Homo sapiens: one gene and its partner. The protein of the gene in region 2 interacts with the protein of the main gene of each other region in a pairwise test. Each region holds a gene or a part of one and is shown on either strand. Other genes may lie near its edges. The genes, in order: PKP2 and DSG1.

Region 1 (9,688 bases), on a different chromosome or scaffold from region 2:
ACTGTGTTTTCCAGCCATTCATTTCACCTGCACAGTGCATAATGTGCTTTCGATGTTTCCTAAAGAAGGGGATGATTTACTAGGAAATATTTCAAATTAACATGGGCTCAGGCAACATTACCTATACTTTTTTCTAAAAATACCATGCACATTTTATGGAGCCCATTTTAAGGAAAATAAAGTAGGTAGTTGCAGAGCAACTTTAAACTCCACTCTTCTCAAATAACAAGCAATTCAGGTCAAACCAATTGCGGGGGCGGGTAATGGTGAAGGAGGTCTGTTTGGATGGTGGTAGGATTCTAAATTCCTCAGAAAATTGCAGAGGTGAAGCCGTCACAGGACAATGTAATTTTCTCCCTTTCCCAATCTGAGTGTTCATTGGAATGATATGATTCCTAAGCAGCTGTTATGGAAAAAGAAGCTTTGTGTTTGGTCACCAATACAAACATTGCTCGAAATAATGAATTATTGTCAGGGTTAAAATAGTCAATAAGGCCAGGCATAGTGGCTCACGCCTGTAATCCCAGCACTTTGGGAGGCCAAGGTGGGCAGATCACTTGAGGTCAGGAGTTTGAGACCAGCCTGGCCAACACGGGGAAAGCCTGTCTCTAAAACATAAAATACAAACCCTGTCTCTAAAATACAAAAATTAGCTAGGTGTGCTGTTGGGCACCTGTAATTCCAGCTACTTGGGGGCCGGGCTTGAACCCAGGAGGCAGAGGTTGCGGTGAGGTGAGACTGTGCCACTGCACTCCAGCCTGGGCAACAGAGCAAGATTCCGTCCCCCCCCCAAAAAAAAAACTAAGTTGATTTTCATAATCACAGTTTTGTGAACAATTTTATTATGTAATTGGTTAGATTGAATGTATTTATGAAATCAAATTGACAAGTCTCTATTGTGGTTCCATTACCTGTTTCTGGGCATATTTATAAAAAACCAACTACAGTTTCTTTTATAGTAAGCAAATGACAGAGAACTGCTAAACAAGCAAGATCTTTATATAGCCTGCTTCTATTAGAGAGAAGAGAGGTGCACTCACATTCAGAAAAGCGTCTTTTCTTTCAATCTTCTAGCACTGAGTGTGGTTTAAAAAAAGTGATTTGGTTCACACTGAGCTCTAAAAGGAGGATTTCTGGAGATGAAGATACATGTAGAGGTGCCCACAAAAACAGGTGTGGTTAAATGTAACCACAGAAATCAGCAGGTGTTCGCTATTAGTATTGATTTAAATGCTGCAGGTAATTGGGCTAACAACCGTGAGCAGTTGTCCTCACAGTGTGGATTCACGATGGTCTTTTAGAAGGAAAGAGCCTGAAAGTCTAAAAGCTTATCATCTTACTGTTATTTGGTCTTTCTACAGTAATCTCTGGCTTGCAACAGCTCTCGTTCTCCACAAATCTTAAAAGATTTAACTTCTCCCATTACAGTAAAGTTGAGGACATGTTATTCCAGGTAAGACATGGGATCTTGCCACTTATTCAGAGGAATTTGTATAGCAATTCATATTTGAATGGATCCTTAAAGTCATTTACTAGCAATAGTAGGAGCTTAAAAGAAAGCAGAAAATATACTGAGACTCATCAAAGACCATACGTATGTCCGCACTCCTGAGTTGGTGAAGGAATTTTTTTTGTTTTTTGTCTGTCTGTGTTGGCATAAAACATACGATTCATTTCCTTGGACTTACATATTTTTTAAAACTATATTTTATCTTCTATTCTTACTTTCCAAGAAGAACAACCAGATATTGATGGAAATCACAACAGCCCAAGTAAGCATTTGCTTAGGCTGGAAAATAAGTAGAATTTGTTGGTTTAGAAAACTATAGTTGGCTGGGCAGGGTGGCTCACACTAGCAATCCTAGCACTTGGGGAGGCTGAGGTGGGTGGATCACTCGAGTCCAAGAGTTTGAGACCAGCCTGGGCAATATAGTGAGATCTCGTCTCTACAAAATTTTAAAAATTTAAAAATTAGCTGGGCATGGTGGCATGGGCCTGTAGTCCCAGCTACTTGGGAAGCTGAGGTGGGTGGATTGCTTGAGCCCTGGAGACAGAAGTTGCAGTTAGCTGAGGTTGGGCCACTGCACTCCAGGCTGGGTGACAGAAAGCAAGACTCTGTCTCAAAAAGGAAAAAAAAAAAGGGAACACTATGGTGAAAAATTGTTTCAAAGCAGATGAAAGTCTAATAAAGTTTTATACTATTGAAAATTTAACCAATAGTTGTACAGTGCTATATTTTGTGACCAGTTAGCTCACATAATCAACCATGAGAAACAACTTGGTGTATCAGGTATATGCTAGAAAGTACTGGCTATGAGTTCTTAAAACGTTGAATATGCCAGGGACAGAACAGCTCTCCTGCAAGAGTGGGCCACACATACCACATGCCAGTGTGCGACTGACTAATCCATTGCTGTTATCACTCACACGATATACCAGCCACTAGAGTCCTTATTTTTCAGGAGCCCCCTAAGCAATTCAAGAGCTATCTTCTGATATACCAATTTATGACATTTGGGGGGCAATCCTCAAATCACTGCTCTAGGTAATGACAAAAACACATTTTAAATGTCCCCCTCCCACTTTTTTTATTGAGATGGAGTCTTGCTCTGTCGCCCAGGCTGAAGTGCAGCGGTGCGATCTTGGCTCACTGAAACCTCTTCCTCTCAGGATCAAGCGATTCTTGTGCCTCAGCCTTCCGAGTAGCTGGACTACAGGTGTGTGCCACCATGCTGACTAATTTTTGTATTTTTAGTAGAGATGGGGTTTTGCCATGTTGGCCAGGCTGGCCTCAAACTCCTGGCCTCAAGAGTTCTACCCGCCTCGGGCTCCCAAAGTGCCAGCGCTTTAGGCGTGAGCCATTAAATGGCCCTTTTATATCACAGGTGTTCATGTCATATTTTGTTTGAGGTATTAGAATATGTAATTGTAGAATTTGTTATTATAAACTGGTAATTTAGCATCCTGGTGAAGTATTAAATAGAAATATCCTGGAAGTATCTAAATCTGTTCATTTCTCAGCCAGGCACGGTGGCTCATGCCTGTAATCCCAGCACTTTGGGAGGTCAAGGTGGGCAGATCACTTGAGTCCAGGAATTTGAGACCAGCCTGGGCAAAAAGGCAAAACCCCATCTGTACAAAAAAAATACAAAAATTAGCTGGGTGTGGTGGCGTACACCTGTAGTCCCAACTACTCAGGAGGCTGAGGTGAGAGAATGGCTTGAGCCCGGGGGGCAGAGGTTGCAGTGAGCCAAGATGCACTCCAGCCTGGGCAACAGAGACAGACGCTGTCTCATGAATGAATGAATGAATACACTGTTCATTTCTGTAACTGTGTCTTTACTTTGGCATTCCTGCCAATTATTTGCTGAGATATCTCATGAGACTTTAAGACTTGTAAGACTTTATAACTTCCATGGCAAATATCACATTATACTCCCAATAATATAAAAAAAGGTGAATTTATAGAACTCACAAATTATTTTTTGCTTTAAAATACTTACTACAGGTTTTCTTTGTAATGACTTTCAAGTCATTATATTTCCCCTGCCTCTCACGTGCCAGGGTTAACCCCTCCCAACTGATTCATAACTGCTAACCCAACTTTTCTTTTTCTTTTTTTTTTTTTGAGACAGATTTTCACTCTTGTTGCCCAGGCTGGAGTGCAATGGCACGATCTCGGCTCACCGCAACCTCCACTTCCCGGGTTCAAGTGATTCTCCTGCCTCAGCCTCCCAAGTAGCTGGGATTACAGGCATGCGCCACCACGCCCAGCTTATTTTTTCTGTACTTTTAGTAGAGACAGGGTTTCTCCATGTTGATCAGGCTAGTCTCAAACTCCCGACCTCAGATGATCCACCCGCCTCAGCCTCCCAAAGTGCTGGGATTACAGGCGTGAGCCACTGCGCCCGGCCTCTTTTTTTTTTTTTTTTGAGACAGGGTCACTCTGTTGCCCAGGCTGGCGTGCAGTGGTGCATTCAGAGCTCACTGCAGCCTTGAACTCCTGGCCTCAGGCGATTCTCCTGTCTCGGCCTCTCAAAGTGCTGGGATTACAGGAAAGAGCCACCATGCTAGGTCTGTTCCTACTTTAAATCCACCAAATCTGTCAAATGTATTTTCACAAAACTCCTGCACTTTTCATGTTTCTTCCCTGTGGAAATATCTGTGACTCACAATTATCAAATTCTTTAACTTGCATTCAAGATCAGAGGAGAGGGGTGAAGGAGGCTGCCTATAAGGGACACAACTGAACTAAGTTAACTGGGCAAGAGAAGGAAGGGAGGGAGACAAGGAGGGGTAGAAATACCAAGCAAGATAAACTGCCTGTGTGTGTTTGGTGGGGAGCAAGGGTAGTGGCCCCAGGGATGAAGTTTGAGAAGTTGCAGGCATTAGATCACGAAGAACTTGGAATGCTGTGTTCAATAATTTTACTCTTGCAGATAACAGTAAGAAACTGAAGGAATTTAAACTGGGAAATGATGCAATGAGATTTTAGAAAGTTCACTCTAGCAGCTGTGTGGAGAATGGATTGGAGTGGGGCCACGTTAAAACAAAGAGGTTATTTTCTCTTCCAAAGAGATTTTGACAGAAAGAACTGTATCTTACACTACCACTTCTAGCACAGTCTTGTATCAGTACTTGACAAGTTAATTGTTGATTAGTCAGATTACCTGTACATTAGAAATATCCTAGTTACACAAATTCAGTTTGCGCTTAATCATTCAGGCAGGTATGTATTCTGTGGCTCACCAGAATGGAACTAAAATGTGAGTATGATAGTCACATACATGCTTTTGTCTTGGGGTAGATGGAAGGTGCTCAAATAGTTTCGACTGTTCTCTGTCATTCTGGGTATACGGAGAGGAAGGAAAGTTGCTTCCCCAGAATGTAGGCAGACTTTTATTAGAAAAGCAGACTTTGGGCCAGGTGCAGTGGCTCATGCCTGTAATCCCAGCACTTTGGGAGGCCGAGGCGGGTGGATCGGTCAGGAGATCGAGACCATCCTGGCTAACATGGTGAAACTCCATCTCTACTAAAAATACAAAAATTAGCCGGGTGTGGTGGCACACACCTGTAATCCCACTTACTTGAGAGGCTGAGGCAGGAGAATCGCTTGAACCCGAGGAGACGGAGGTTGCAGTGAGCCGAGATTGTGCCACCGCACTCCAGCCTGGGCATAGAGCGAGACTCCATCTCAAAAAAAAAAAAAAAAAAAAAAAGAAAAGCTGACTTTGTTCATTTTGGCAAGGTTGTTTCTATATTTGAATAATATATGTTTACTATCATTCTTTTATCTGTATGGCTTGTGTATTTATCTGTAATATTTTGGTGGCCTATAAATTCATATTATCTGTCAAGAAAAGTTCCCATTTGTTTTCATTCTTCAATGAAAAAGAGTAATCAAGATCCAATAAGCTTGATGCTCACCCACACCCACCCCATAAATAGCTTACTGAGAGATTCAGAAAAAATAATCCATTAAGCTTCTAATGAAGGTTTTCATCCACAAATTCTGGAAATCAAGGAATTGCAGAACTTTGATTATGACTGCTTAGGTTAACGAATGTTATTAAGTCTAAAGCTGATTATTCCAAGAATATAAATATGTGAATTATTTTAATAGTAATGGCAGGTTGTGTTTTCAAATGCTTAAGTTTCTTTTTTTCCAACTGTCCATTTTTATTTAAATCTACATATTGAGCTCTCAAGCTTTTGTCTTTAAACACTTTAAGAACATTACAACTGTTTTTATGTCCAATATCCAATTACCAGAAATGGCATTATAGAAAAGATACACAGGCCGGGTGCGGTGGCTCACGCCTGAGATCCCAGCACTTTGGGAGGCAGAGGTGGGCGGATCACCTGAGGTCAGGAGTTCGAGACCATCCTGGCCAACATGGTGAAACCCTGTCTCTACTAAAAATACAAAAAATTAGCTGGGCTTGGTGGCGGGTGCCTGTAATCCCAGCTACTCGGGAGGCTGAGGCAGGAAAATCGCTTGAACTCGGGAGGCAGAGGTTGCAGTGAGCCGAGATCGTACCACCGCACTCCAGCCTGGGCAACAAGAGCGAAACAAAAAAAAAAAAAAAAGAAAAGAAAAGACACACAACAGGTTTTTAATGTTTTTATTATGAGAGCACTTGATAGTTTGTTTAGTAGTCTTACTCTACTAGTCAGGGGAGCCAGGTGGCTCACTCTAATAGAAAAATAAAGTTTTCTCCTAATTTATTGTCTATTCCCACTTGCATTGCTGCCTTTTACTGCTAATTTACTTCCTCAGGAGAAGTAGGGTATTTATCTTCATATATTTGTAGACATGCACAAGATACCTGAAGTCCAACATTTGTCTCAGAATTGTATAATTTAAACTTGTTGAATGTCATCTGAGATGGAAATAAATCATCTTATAGGCCATATTAATCATCTGATTTATAAACTCCAGAGGTTTTAGCATCATATTTATTATATTTCATTACTATCATAGTTTGCCAATAATATGCTTGTTCTCTCAGAGAAAAAAAATCAAAACTTTTAATAATTTGTATTGATCAGACTAGGAATTCAATTGTAGGGTAAAATCAATGTTAAAATGTGAAGATAAAATAATGTAACTATGTATAGGCTTATTTTAATAAATGAGAAAAAACTGTAAAGTTGCTATCTAAAACTTTGAGGAAATGTGAACTACAAATACCTAGAATATTTAATACAAAAGCTACCCTCTGTTCCCATGACTGTGGAACTCTTAGCACAGGGCATACAGATAACAACAGTCTTTTAAAAGCCTAAATGAACAGTCTTCCTTCCTTTAAGGTAATTTCCTGCGTCTTATCTGTCACATATAGAACAATGTACTTTCATAATCAAACCCTGCTACTCTGGGTCTACTTGTGGTTTCTTACAGTTCCACGGATTCTGAAGCATCCTTACTTTACCCTCACACAAAACTTCACCCCTAAGAGATGTGTTCTCAACATTTCCAGGGGTGTGAAGTTTTTTTTGTTGTTGTTGTTAACTACCATTTTGTTAACATTCTATTTCACTTACTATAATCAGAAGGATTTCTTTAATTATTTTTGGACTTACCGAACTCAATCTGCTTGGCCCTGGACAAAAAGTGGCTCACAGGCCATATTACACAGACACAGAGGTGCATTTAATCCAGTGTGCTACTGACACCTCACATTCAGAGCAGAGGGCCATGACCCTGCCACCCGCCATCTCACTCTTTTTTTTCCCTTTCCTGATCCCTCCTACTTTCTGAACGATTAGTCACCTTGCTCCCCAGAATTGCTTCATTCCTGGGATTCCTTTTTGTCAAAGGAAGAATTTATGCAGAATTTGAACAATGTCTAACTTTTTTTTAACAGTAGCGCCTAGTAACTACCTTTCTTTTGCTACCCTGAGCCAATTTTCAATTCTCTCTCCAGAATTCACTTTTTTTTTTTTTTTTGAGATGGAGTCTCACTCCATCGCCCAGGCTGGAGGCAGTGGCATGATCTTGGCTCACTGAAACCTCTGACTCCCAGGTTCAAGCAATTCTCCTGCCTCAGGCTCCCTAGTAGCTGGGATTACAGGTATGCACCACCACACCTGGCTAATTTGTTTTTTATTTTTAGTAGACACAGGGTTTCACCATGTTGGCCAGGCTGATCTCAAACTCCTGACCTCAGGTAATCCACCCGTCTCGGCCTCCTAAAATGGTGAGACTACAGGCATGAGTCACTGCGCCCAGCCCAGAATTCACTTTGATCACAGATATTGAAAAGCAGCTTCACCAAGGAAATCACCTAAGATAATAGTGTGCCTCAAGTTTTGTGGTGGATTTCCAAAGAGGTTGTAAATATAATTGCATTAGGAGATTGTTCACTGTCCTTTATAAGTAGTAAATACAATTTAAAACACAATTTTCTCTCCACTCAGATACCTGGGGTGGGGGCGGGGGGGGGGGGAGAACTGTGTAGCAAGTAGTACTTTTAAGGCAAGTGTAATAAATAGGATATGGATGCTTTTAATTTTTCCCTTTGCCAATACTTGCAATTCTTAAATGTCTTCTATTTTAGAAAAATATTTTAACTATTAGCTACAATACAGACTTACTTCACAATGCTGCTATACACCTCTGAAGGCCCCTTCCCAAAGAGTTACAGCCAACTTTAAAATGTTCAGCACAGTTAAAAATAACACCAAAAGTCACTGAGTGATTTACAATGAAAACCACCCAGCTATACTAAGGCATTGGAAAGAAGACAAAGGGTTAAAGACTCTTGCAAGATACTTATCAACAAATCAGCCACATTTATCTCATCTCTGCTTTCAGCAGGTTATCCGCTGTCTCAACCTTACAGGTTTGTCAACAACTCAGAATTCTCCAGGGCCCTGGAGCTAATAGCAGTTAACATCAGGGTCTTTTCTTCCTGGAATTTCTTGTGTTGATACAGGATTTTTTCCAGACCAGCACTGTTTCAACAATTGCTTGTCTGTTTCAACTTGAGAGACAGGATAGTAACATGGAAATAATAAAAATTATACTCAGAACCACCACGAGCCCCCAGACCTTTTCAAAGAAGTTTAATTAAACAATACATACGAACCACCCCTGGTAATTGTTTCATGGCATGCTAATGTTAAATTCCTTTGAAGCTGATTTCCTTTTTGAGTCTTAGAAAGCTGAGGCTTTAAAGTAAGTAGGTGTTGTTTGCTGCCTTATCTCTCTGTCTGATTTGTACTTCTGTGTAGGCTGCAGAGTGTATTTCAGCTTACTGGAAAGCTGCTGTTGCAATCAAAATATTTCAAACGCTTTGTTCCTTAGTTGGAACAGCCAGTCAAGTAGTTGACCCAAGCATTATAGCAGAAGGACCAAGATAGTGCCCTTTGTTCTACCATATCAACTCTGTGAACTGTGAAATATTCATTCTGTTCCCTCCTAGAATGATCTTTCTCCAGTCACCTCCCTATGTCCAGTCCTACTGAATTTTTGAGATCTACCTCCAGGAAGCTTTTCAAAATTTCCTGCCACCAGGAGTAACTTACTTTTTTTTTTTTTTTTTTTTTTTTTGAGATGGCGTTTCGCTCTTGTTGCTCAGGCTGGAGTGCAATGGCGAGATCTCCGCTCACTGCAACTTCTACCTCCCGGGTTCAAGCGATTCTCCTGCCTCAGCCTTCCGAGTAGCTGAGTAGCTGGGATTACCGGCATGTGCCACCACGCCCGGCTAATTTTGTATTTTTAGTAGAGATGGGATTTTACCATGTTGGTCAGGCTGGTCTCAAACTCCCGACCTCAGGTGATCCTCCCGCCTCGGCCTCCCAAAGTGCTGCAATTACAGGCATGAGTCACTGCGCCCAGCCAATTTACACTTCTAAACTCCATAATATATTAGCCATTCTTTTGGGTCACTTACTACTTTTTATTTGGTAATGTATTTTTCTAGCGGTTGGCTTCCTTCTTCAAACTTTTTGCTTTAAAGCAAGCAGAGTCTTTGTGTTTAATTCAGCACCTGCACAGCGCCCGGCATGAAGAACATACTCATTTGATGCTTGCTGAATTCATCACACAGGTGATGCATTACTTTGTAGAAAGAACAGATTATGTGTGGAGTTGGGATTAAATTTCCAACCATTGCTGACAGACACATACTTCATATGTGAGATGGATTCTCATATCTATCTCAGCAATTGTTTCAAGAAT
Region 2 (10,237 bases):
GCACCTTAATGGGTTGAATTCTCTAATTTATTCTTTTCGTTTGTGTATTTTACAAGTACATACTGAATGTGTATTATGTGGATCCAACACTAGATTAAGACTTTTAAAGGCCTGAAAATATTATAGTAAGTCTCAGGTGAAATGTAAAATGAATTTAATACTACACCATTAAAATGTTGGGGAAATCCAGTATTATTATTTCTATGTTTAATAGCGTGATAATTTTTTGGAGTGTGTGGGGGAAGAGCTGTATAAACTATCCAGAAACTTCCTTGTGGTACCTCTGCTGTGTGTGATTAGACATCTTTTGAGCAATCTTGCACTGGTGCAAGGCACCATAAGGGATACAAAGGCAAATCAGACACAGAACCTGCCTTCAAATAACTTACAGTCTTGCAGTTTTGAGAGCAACAGGCAACCATTAATTTGTAGAGATATGATTTCTCATTAGACGAGTATGAAAAACTGTGGCCTATTCTCATAGACCAATTAAGAGCATGGATCAGCAGCCAATGGCATTTAAAAAAATTTGATCTGTCTAAGTCTATTGAAGGAATTTGCATATCAAGCATAATCAGCAAGGGTGGCATGACCCAGCACTGGGCAAGGGTGTTCCCTGAGATGAGGGAGCATTATAAATCTAATTGCGGTGCCTGGCACAGCAGGCTTCCTGCTGATATGTTAGGCAATGTCTATTAGGACACAGGGATACTCAGCAACCAGGTCTTTGATGAATGTGTTGTGGAGAAAGAGTTACCAGAAATTAAGTGCTCTGGGTATAGATAAGATAATTTTCTAGATTGATGAGATTTGTTAAATAAGTGAATCTTATTCTAGGGTCAGCCTTTCAGATTTAAGACAGCATTCTTCAGTGCTTTAGTTTCTACTCTTTTCCTAAAACAGGGATGACAAAATGTTTTTACTTTGTGGCAACTCAAACCAATTGAGCGATGATAAATGTGTACTCCTTGTTTCTGTAAAGGTGATAGAAGATGCTAATCCTAAATCTACAGCGAAATAATAAAGCTTTTATGAACACCATATAACTGTTAATGATGACACTTGAATGCAATTTGTAAGTTTCACTGAATACGTGAACAGAAATATTCCTTCCATTTTCTACAAAATATTTTACTGAAACACTGATCTCTATACTACATATCACTATAATACACGCTCAAGAAAGCACAAAGAGCTCTCTCTTTTGCTTGTCTTCTGTTTGGTCTGTACTAATTTGTTAGTTCTTCTCTTGCTTTAGGCATCTGTGAACACAATTTTGGGGACTTAAGATGTCTTCAAGTAAGTTTAGGAACTATGTAATGAAATGTGTATTATTTTCTGTGTATTTTAGCCTGAGTGATGAAAGTACTCTTAAAAACTCCTGCTCATATTTTACAGAATTTCAGTTCGGTTCAAACTGTGGAGTTAGTTTATCAGGTGTCAGAGGGTTGGGTTTTTTTTTGTTTGTTTGTTTCGAAATGAAATATTAACCCATAGAAAGAGGGGGAAAATGGTTACTATAATGAACCAAAATAATCAGATCATTCATGGTCATAGATAAAAGTCATTTTCTCTGTTCTTTGAGCTTGAGCTGCAGAAATTTACCTTTTTAGAAAAAGACATCTTCAGATTTGTATTGACTTAAATGGACTAATTGGACCTGGCAAAGTTGCAAGTAATTTTCAGAAATCATTAAAACCATAGAGATCCCTCTGGCTCTGTTTTGCTTTCCCACAGTGACCATGCTGTACTTTTTACCATTGTCATATACATGCACATAGATTTCTTTTATTTGGTGCATAAGAAGCATTGTTCTCAGGCCTAGAGAAAATACATTCTAACTCCTTTCTCTACTCCATACACTGATTACATGGAAACAAAAAGAAGAATGAAAAATAGATGCAGAATTAACAAAATGTGTTTGACTTGCAGTGTTATAGCAGGTGTAATCTCTTGCCTGTCCAGGAGACTTGTCAGAACAATGGAATAGCCATAGAGCGATCTTGATTGCTGTAAGAGCAGCTCCTCCAGCTTTGTTCTCCCTGATTCAACCCACTCATTTGAACAAGGTTCACAACCTTCAGATGCATTGAGATGAATACACAGTATGCTTGCAAACAAATAGTTACCCAGTTCTCAGGTAGATTTGCTTAAAAGACACTACCAATTTAAATATCTTAAAGGCCTTAACAATTGTACAAATACGCTTCCTAATGCAGGTTCCCGCTTATTGACTTTGAGTAGAGACGAATATAAAGACTTTACATAAATTTTTTTTCATTTTTTGGTAAAAGCATGCATTTATAATGAGACTAGGAGAAAGATAACTGAAAGAATTTGCTATAGTGGTGGTTGTTTTATGAAGAAAAAAAGTATTTTAAAGAAAAATACAGATTAGGAAACTCCAAAGCACAATTACCAAAATTATCCCATGTGGTAAAATCTGTACTTAAAATAAATTTTGATCTTCCAAACCTTAGAAAGTGAAATGTTTTCCAAAAAAACCTATGATGTCAACGTGAAAATGAAACATTGTAATTCATGATAGTGTAAGTTCTTTGAGAAAAAATTTTCATAAGGCATGTGGGAGACTTGTGATTAATTTCAATATAAAATAAGGTAACCTCCTCTTCCCCCATTCCCAAAAAAACCCCCATAAGCCAACAAAAAAAAATCTAGGCACAGCTAGAGAAAGTTCAATAAAGATATATGATTTTGATGATGATACATTTTATTGAAGAATGACTAAATAGGAAGTGGCTGTTTAAAGAAATTTGATATGCTATAATTAATTTGAAATAAATAAATCAACAAATAAGGCACATCTTAGAGATTCTATGAAAGTTAGTGTACACCTATCTGAACAAGCTGATCAACTAAAACTATAATAGCTCTTAATGGATCAAATTTATTTGAAATTTTAAGTAAAAGTGCTTGATTACTGACAATATGAAACTCTCATATTTCAAATGACATACTGTATAATGATCAGTGATCCCTACCAAATCCTAAGTAATGAAATCAACTGATCCTAAATATCCACTGAAAAGAGCATGGGATAGGACTAATGTTTGAAGGAAAGCTTGGAACCAAAGCCACCAGCTTACTGATGCTCATTTATAACTAAATCCACTGATTATGTCCCGCCTTAGTTAATAAAACTGAATTCAAACTAACCAGCATACTTTGAATCAAAGATCTAACTTATTATACCAACCAACCCAACATTCCAGTTCAAAAATTAAGCAAGTAGAAACAAATGTGAACCACAGCACTATACATCCTGCCAAGCTGGAGGGCAATTTACTTGGCACCTGCCTTTTTGAATTACATTAACCTTACTATGAGAGAGATTACAATTTTCAAATTTTCACTGAAAGTGAAATTGACATAATACATTAGTGGTGCACTTAGTATTATCTCTACAGCAAGAAAACTAATTACATGTAAGGGGGCAATGATAAAGTATTTCATTACATTCGTCAGACGATCAAGTGCACAACTTTTATATCGCAGTCATCACTGACATTCCAGTAGTAAGATCGAGTGTAATAATAATTATACTTACTCTTTAATTATAGCCACTTCTTCACTTAATATGTCATTTATAAACCTCCTGTACTGCCGTTTTTTGAAATTAAAAATGTTTTAAATAAAATCATAGTTAAATAGTGCGGGGCTTTTTATAGTAGTGATACAGATTCTAACCAAATATGCAACTGATGACTTTATTTGGATAGCGAGACCAGCCACAAACTGCTACGATTTTAAATTATGTGGTGCTATTTTTATGTTTTAAAAATTAGAGTAATTCCACCACCAAACACACAAAAAAAATAAAAAAAAAAACAGGTTAAAAATCCAGACACACTTGTGATATTTAGTTTAAAAGCCCTCTTGCAGAAGAGATTTTGAACGACAAAGTGCTACTAACTAGCGATAGGAATTTCCTAAATTCAGTCTTTTCCCAGCATGACTTAGCAATGACTTCAGTGTCAGAGATGTAATACAATGAGTTGACACTGAGGCATTAACATGATCTTGAGTCTTCAATTAAAGAGAGAAATGCTATTGAAAAATCTAGTTCATAAAATCATCTTGTCATTAATATACATTTTCAATGGGTTTAGGTTAGAAATAATGCCCACTAACATTTTCTAAAAAGTTTTCACTTGTTTACAATGGGCACGATTATGAAGGACTTTTACCAGAATCCACTCACCAGAAAAATGAACAGCATTGCAACTACTCTGAAGAAACTCCAGTCCATCTCTGCTGGATTCTCTTACATCCAAGACCAAGGGAGTTTTGTTTGTTCTTCTCTGTTCTTTTTCTTTCTCCCACTCAGCTGGTGTCTGATTAAAATAATTTCTCAGTAGATGTTCTTACATGCAGGCTTTGAGGTGTTTCTGCCTTCCTCTGGGAGAAGGACTGAAGGTACGTATAACCAGTCTGGATCCCCACCCTAAAAACTTGGGCTGGTCTCACTGAAATGCTTGACAAGATCATCATTGCTCCCAGGTAAAAACTTGGGGACACACCCTTCCTCCAGCTGAAAAGCGACTCTTGATGGGGCAAGGAAGATTCACTCCTTTACTGAATGTTTTCAGTGGCAGGCTCTTAAAGTGAACAGAAATACCGAGGGTTATACAGGTGATGGGGGCTTCTCACCCCATGCTTTCTTTACAGGTGGTTTAGTTTCTCCCCATATTAAACAGGCAGGTATAACTTGAATGCTCATCTTATTCATTCCATTATCTGTTTGTAGCCAAACCCTCAGGTCATAGTAGAAAATGACAAACTTTCCATTTTAGTAGATGTTGGGAAAGTTTCAGTTATTTTCGGTTGTTAAGAGACAGAAAATATGCTAATGCAAGACTGAGATTTTTTAAAGTTATTAATTCAAACAAGTAAAACCATGATACTTACAATTATTAGATCCTCTGCATAAGTCACAATTCCCATTAACTGACCAGCCTTCAGTCTAAGGAATCCTCCATTTTCCCTCTAAAGAAATTATTTTCTCTCCCTAATTATTTTTCTTTCTTTATGATTCTTTTATTAAATGCAACAAAATAAAAATTTAAATATTACTAAACTTAAGGGTGAATAGTGAGAACCACCAATTAAAATCCTGATAATAACTTTAAAAATGAGATTCGGTGCCTGAAATACTAATGAAAACACAGAAAGCTGCTCAGCAGGTGAGGTGGGTTAAAAGTCAATGACAATTCCTAAGCACAGAGCCAAGAATCTGTACAGCGAGCCAATTAGAACATAGGGAATACACTGAAGAAATGGCTGCCTACACAGGTAGACGGGAAACTGAATGCAGCCCTGAGGTTTGTGAAAATAAATAGCAACCTTCACAGGGCAGCATTTGGACATATTTTTGGACTCTCTTCTCTTCCCCTGGCAACGTCTAGTATAAATATTGTGAGTGGCAGGAAGCTCATAGACACTGGACACCCTCAGAGTTTGAAACGGCTACTTAGAACAAGAGACCTACCTGATAAGATGTTGATTATGGTCAAAAAGATACTCAAAATGTCTCCAAAAGGAAGAAAATCTCTGAGGGTCAGAGGGTCTATAGAAGGCTGTCATTTCACTACAGATTTGTGGCAAAGAAGATGTGTGGTTTGAATTTCCATATTATCCATCATACAGTGTGGAGGGGAGGAGATAGGCTGCCCATGTTTATTTGCAGTGAATAAGAATGTTTATGATTGTAAATAGCAGATGTAAATAAATAAAATTTAGAAAGATGAGCTGGCCGATTTTCTCTAATGAGAAATGTCAAATAAAATAGACTGTATTAACCTATGACTTAGTCTGAGCAATATATTAGTATCATGTTGTCTGACCATGAATAGCAGAAGACTCACTGGGCACCAGAGACAACTGCACCTACTCTTGCAGCTTTCCAGTGGCGAGTCAATGTTTTATGCATCTCGGATTCTGGGCATGATGCTAGGGCATGCATGGGGGCCTCCTTCATCCATTAAATTACCTTTCCTTAAACCTAACCCTGGCTCCACCCCTAACTCAATGCCTTGCTCCAACAATCCTATATGACTAGGGGATTCATAAGGCAGCAATCTCTCAAACATCTTTCTGGAGAGGAGGTGTGATAGAACTCCAATACTGCAGAGCAGCGTCTGTCTTGGCAGTTACATGAGAGCCAATACGATGTTAAACACAGCGGGAGAGGGAATTTGTTAATCACTTTCTCTCCCTTGCCTCCTTCCCTGCCTTTTTCTCTTTCTTACTCATTTTAACGTCCTCAGAACAGTGCTATCCAGTAGAACTTTCTGCAATACGAACATATTCTCTATCTATGCTGTCAGATATGGTAGCCATTTATAATATGTGACTATTGAGGATTTAAAATATGGTTATTATGACTAAGGAAGAGAATATTTAACTTTGCTTAATTTAAATTTAAATAACCACATGTGGCTAGTGGCTACCATATTGGACAGTGCAGACATCATTGCTTTTGTTGTCTATCTTCTCTCTTACTCCAAACCTTAACTTCCGGTTTTTACAAACTCACCTCTCTCAATCTACCCTATGCCTTTTCTTAATTGAGAACCCCACCATTGTTCCAGCTTTCAATGAGCACATTTAATTAGTTTTCCTTCATGTACTCTTATCTCAGTTGGTCCTGTCCCTTTTCCTGACTTAGTGGTCCTCCTTCCTAATGCCAATGAGTTAAGATACTTTAAAACATAGGCAACACAAACCATTTCATTTCCGTATTCACAATGTTTTCAATTCTTTCTTCCAGCAACCTCATCTGTAACCTCACATCACACTGTTGCTTCTTCTCTCCCATCTCAGTGAACTCCTTTTCTTTACTCTGAACATTGTTTAGTATGTGTACCTGCACGTACATAGCAACAGTTCTCATTTCATAAAAATTTTGTGAAATTTGGGGTGATTTTTCTGTCTGGAATCTCCCTGGTGAGCTGACAAAGGTTTCCATAGGGACTAAAATTCTCTAGAGAAGAGGATTTTCCTCTTTTTCACAAGGCATTGAAAACTCCAGAATGTAACTTAAGTGTTTGCATTTCTACATTTGTTGTTAGCTTGAAATATTGCAATACCCTTTAAGAAAACAAAATAATCAGCCTCTAAAAAAATAATTTTGAAAAACAAAATAATCCGCATATTTAACTAAAGGTAACACATTTTATTGATCTAGAAGTTCTCAAGCCTAATAACAGTAACTGTTTTATCCACCTTCATTTACATAGCATCCATAGCATGGACTTATATTTCAGAGAAATTCTTTGGAATGTGCTTTTTTTTCCTTTTAGCAATAAAGTATTTTTAAATTGATATATAATAGCTGTACATATTTTTGGGGTGCATGTGATGTTTGCATACCTGTGCAATGTTATAATGATTAAATCAGGGCAACTGTGATATCCGTCACCTTAAACGTTTATTTTTTGTGTTGGGAAATTCTTCTCTTGTAGCTATATTGAAATATACAACAAATTATTGTTAACTATGTTTTAATGTTATATGTGAACCTCTAGTTTTATATGTTCTAAATTATCCTAATGAACTCTACACATTGTTTAAAAAATAGGTGAAAGATGAAAAACTTAAAACTCGAGGGGAAATTGAAGTAAATATGTTAGGCATTATATAAATAAAAATTTTCTGTTTGCCTCTATACTGTATTAATATTACCATGAGATATATTGATTGTAGATCTTGTTCACATTGTTTAAAATTAAACTATTCCTCAAAGAGTCAATGTCACACCCACATACATCTGGGAGATGGGGCCTGCATTTTAGATTAAAAGATACTTTTCTTTTTCATATATAGCAGTCACAGCAAAGTCTGATTGGTAAGTGGATTTTTGGTTTGGACAAAAGAGCTGTGGAAGTAATTTTGGGATATCCAATATCTGGGAAAATTTAAATAAGAACTGTAGAAAATTATGATATATTTTATCAGGTTATATTGTATTATGTCTTTTTTTTTTTTTTGAGATGCATCTAGCTCTCTTGCCTGGGCTGGAGCGCAGTAGCGTGATCTCAGCTCACTGCAAACTCTGTCTCCCAGAACAAGCAATTCTCATGCCTCAGCCTCCTGAGTAGCTGGGTCTACAGGTGTGAGCCACCACACCCAGCTAATTTTTTGTAGTTTTAGTAGAGATGGGGTTTCATCATGTTGCCAGGCTGATCTTGAACTCCTGACCTCAAGCGTTCTACCCGCCTTGCCCTCCCAAAGTGCTTGGATTACAGGTGTGAGCCACCATGCCTAGCCATATTATGTCTATTTTTAAAGATATGTGAATTACATTAGGAGTGAAATGTCATGATGATGGAAATTTTCTTCATAATAATTCAGCAATGAAACAGATAAAATAAATATGGCAAAATATTAACAACTGTTAAATCTAAATGATAGTATATGGTTTTCTTTGTTTTGTGTATATTTGAAAATTTTCCTAATAAAAGTAAAAATAATGAACTTAAGTAGACGTCAGCAAATTATTGCCATGGGTCAAATAGGGTCCACTGTGTGGTTTTTGTTCTTTTTTTAGTTGAACGCAGCCATAGTCATTTGCATATAAATTGTGGCTCCTTTCATTCCACAAGAGCAGGGCTAAGAAGTTATGACAGAGACCATGTTGGCGTAGAAAGCCTAAAATAATTACTTCCCTTGCCCTTTACAGAAAATGTTTGACAATCCCTTGACTAGATGAATAGATTATAGCTTGCAGTATGAAATATGACTTGTGAGTAGATTAGTTGATTTTAGGAGAAGTCACAAAATTGATCTCAAGGATGTGAACAGAAATCATGATGACTGAAAGTAGCCATTAAAATTTAAAAAACTAGGCCGGGCGTGGTAGCTCATGGCTGTAATCCCAGCACTTTGGGAGGCTGATGGGGGCGGATAACTTGAGGTCAGAAGTTCGAGAGCAGCCTGGCCAATGTGGTGAAACCCCATCTGTACTACAAAATACAAAAATTAGTTGGGCGTGGTGGCAGACCCCTGTAATCCCAGCTACTCGGGAGGCTGAAGCAGGAGAATTGCTTGAACTCGGGAGGGGGAGGTTGCAGTGAGCTGGGATGGTGCCACTGCACTACAGCTTGGGCAACAGAGGGAGACTTCATCTCAAATTAAAAAATAATAATAATAAATAAATAAAAAAACTGATCACTGAGAAAAATATATTTATAATAAAATTGTATTTTTAGTTTTCTATGCTTAGAGAGATTTTGTTTATAATTGACCAAAATAATCTACAGCCTAACTCTTCTTCCTTTTTTTTCCCCAGATCTAAGGGAAATCTTAATTATTTTTCTCTAGTAAATTCTAGAATGGGAATTCAACGGCAACACATCTTTATATGCTTTTCTCTATATAGAAACAATGTTTATGAACAAAGGGAAAATCTCAAATAATTTTGAGAACTGTGAACTCTATCTAATATGTAAGTATTTTATGATGAAATAAGAATAGTGAAAGAGACTGAGCTATTATTGCTTGTGCTTTAAAGAAGTTAAAAATATATGATAATTCTGAGTTTTGCTACATGTTCATCACTGTAGTAGGCACTGTGTTCAAAACAATTTTGAACTCTGCTCTTAAGGAGCTTACCTTATAGCTGCAAACACACTGACACAGAAGTAATACTACTTACTTCTGGAAGACTGTTCTACTCATACACCTACGTGGGTTAGCCACAGTCCCACTGTAGTGTTTGGATTTCATGTGCAACTTCAGGCTATTTTTTTTTTTTTTTACTTGTAATACATTATCCCCAGGCCAGTTCTATGGCATTTATTTCTTTGACCTACTATGTTCCTTGCACTATACTAAGGGACTGAGATTACAAAGATGGATAGAATATGGTTCTTGCCCTCATGTGGCTCCAGGCTGTGGAATGGGGAAAACAACATATTTTTTTTCCACTTGCTGAACAGAAGCATGCATAAGATGCTTTGGGAATCCATAGCCCAGTTTTACTGGAGGTGACATGAGAGAAATCTTATAATGTTAATGGCTACACATTTGTGGCATAATAGAACTGATTGCTAAAATACTTAATTTCTTTCTTTCTTTGTAGCTTACCTAAATCTCTCATCTTATACTTTAAATTTTATAGTGTTTAATTGAATACAGCCACAGTTAATTGCTTCTATTGTCTGCACTTTGCCTTTCGGTCTTCATTTCTGCTTTCATGGTTTCTCTCCAGGCACCC

What was found.
Region 1: the proteins of DSG1 (region 2) and PKP2 interact in a two-hybrid assay, tested with the Homo sapiens proteins (one study listed by BioGRID).

What each region holds. Positions count from the first base shown.
Region 1 is NC_000012.12:32,884,879-32,894,566, forward strand, and holds part of PKP2 (plakophilin-2), read right to left. Parts: exon of another isoform or gene 9,402-9,688; intron 1-9,401. UniProt on the Homo sapiens protein: A component of desmosome cell-cell junctions which are required for positive regulation of cellular adhesion.
Region 2 is NC_000018.10:31,312,334-31,322,570, reverse strand, and holds the start of DSG1 (desmoglein-1 preproprotein), read right to left. Parts: upstream 4,412-10,237; 5' UTR 4,271-4,411; coding exon 4,223-4,270; intron 1-4,222. UniProt on the Homo sapiens protein: Component of intercellular desmosome junctions. Involved in the interaction of plaque proteins and intermediate filaments mediating cell-cell adhesion.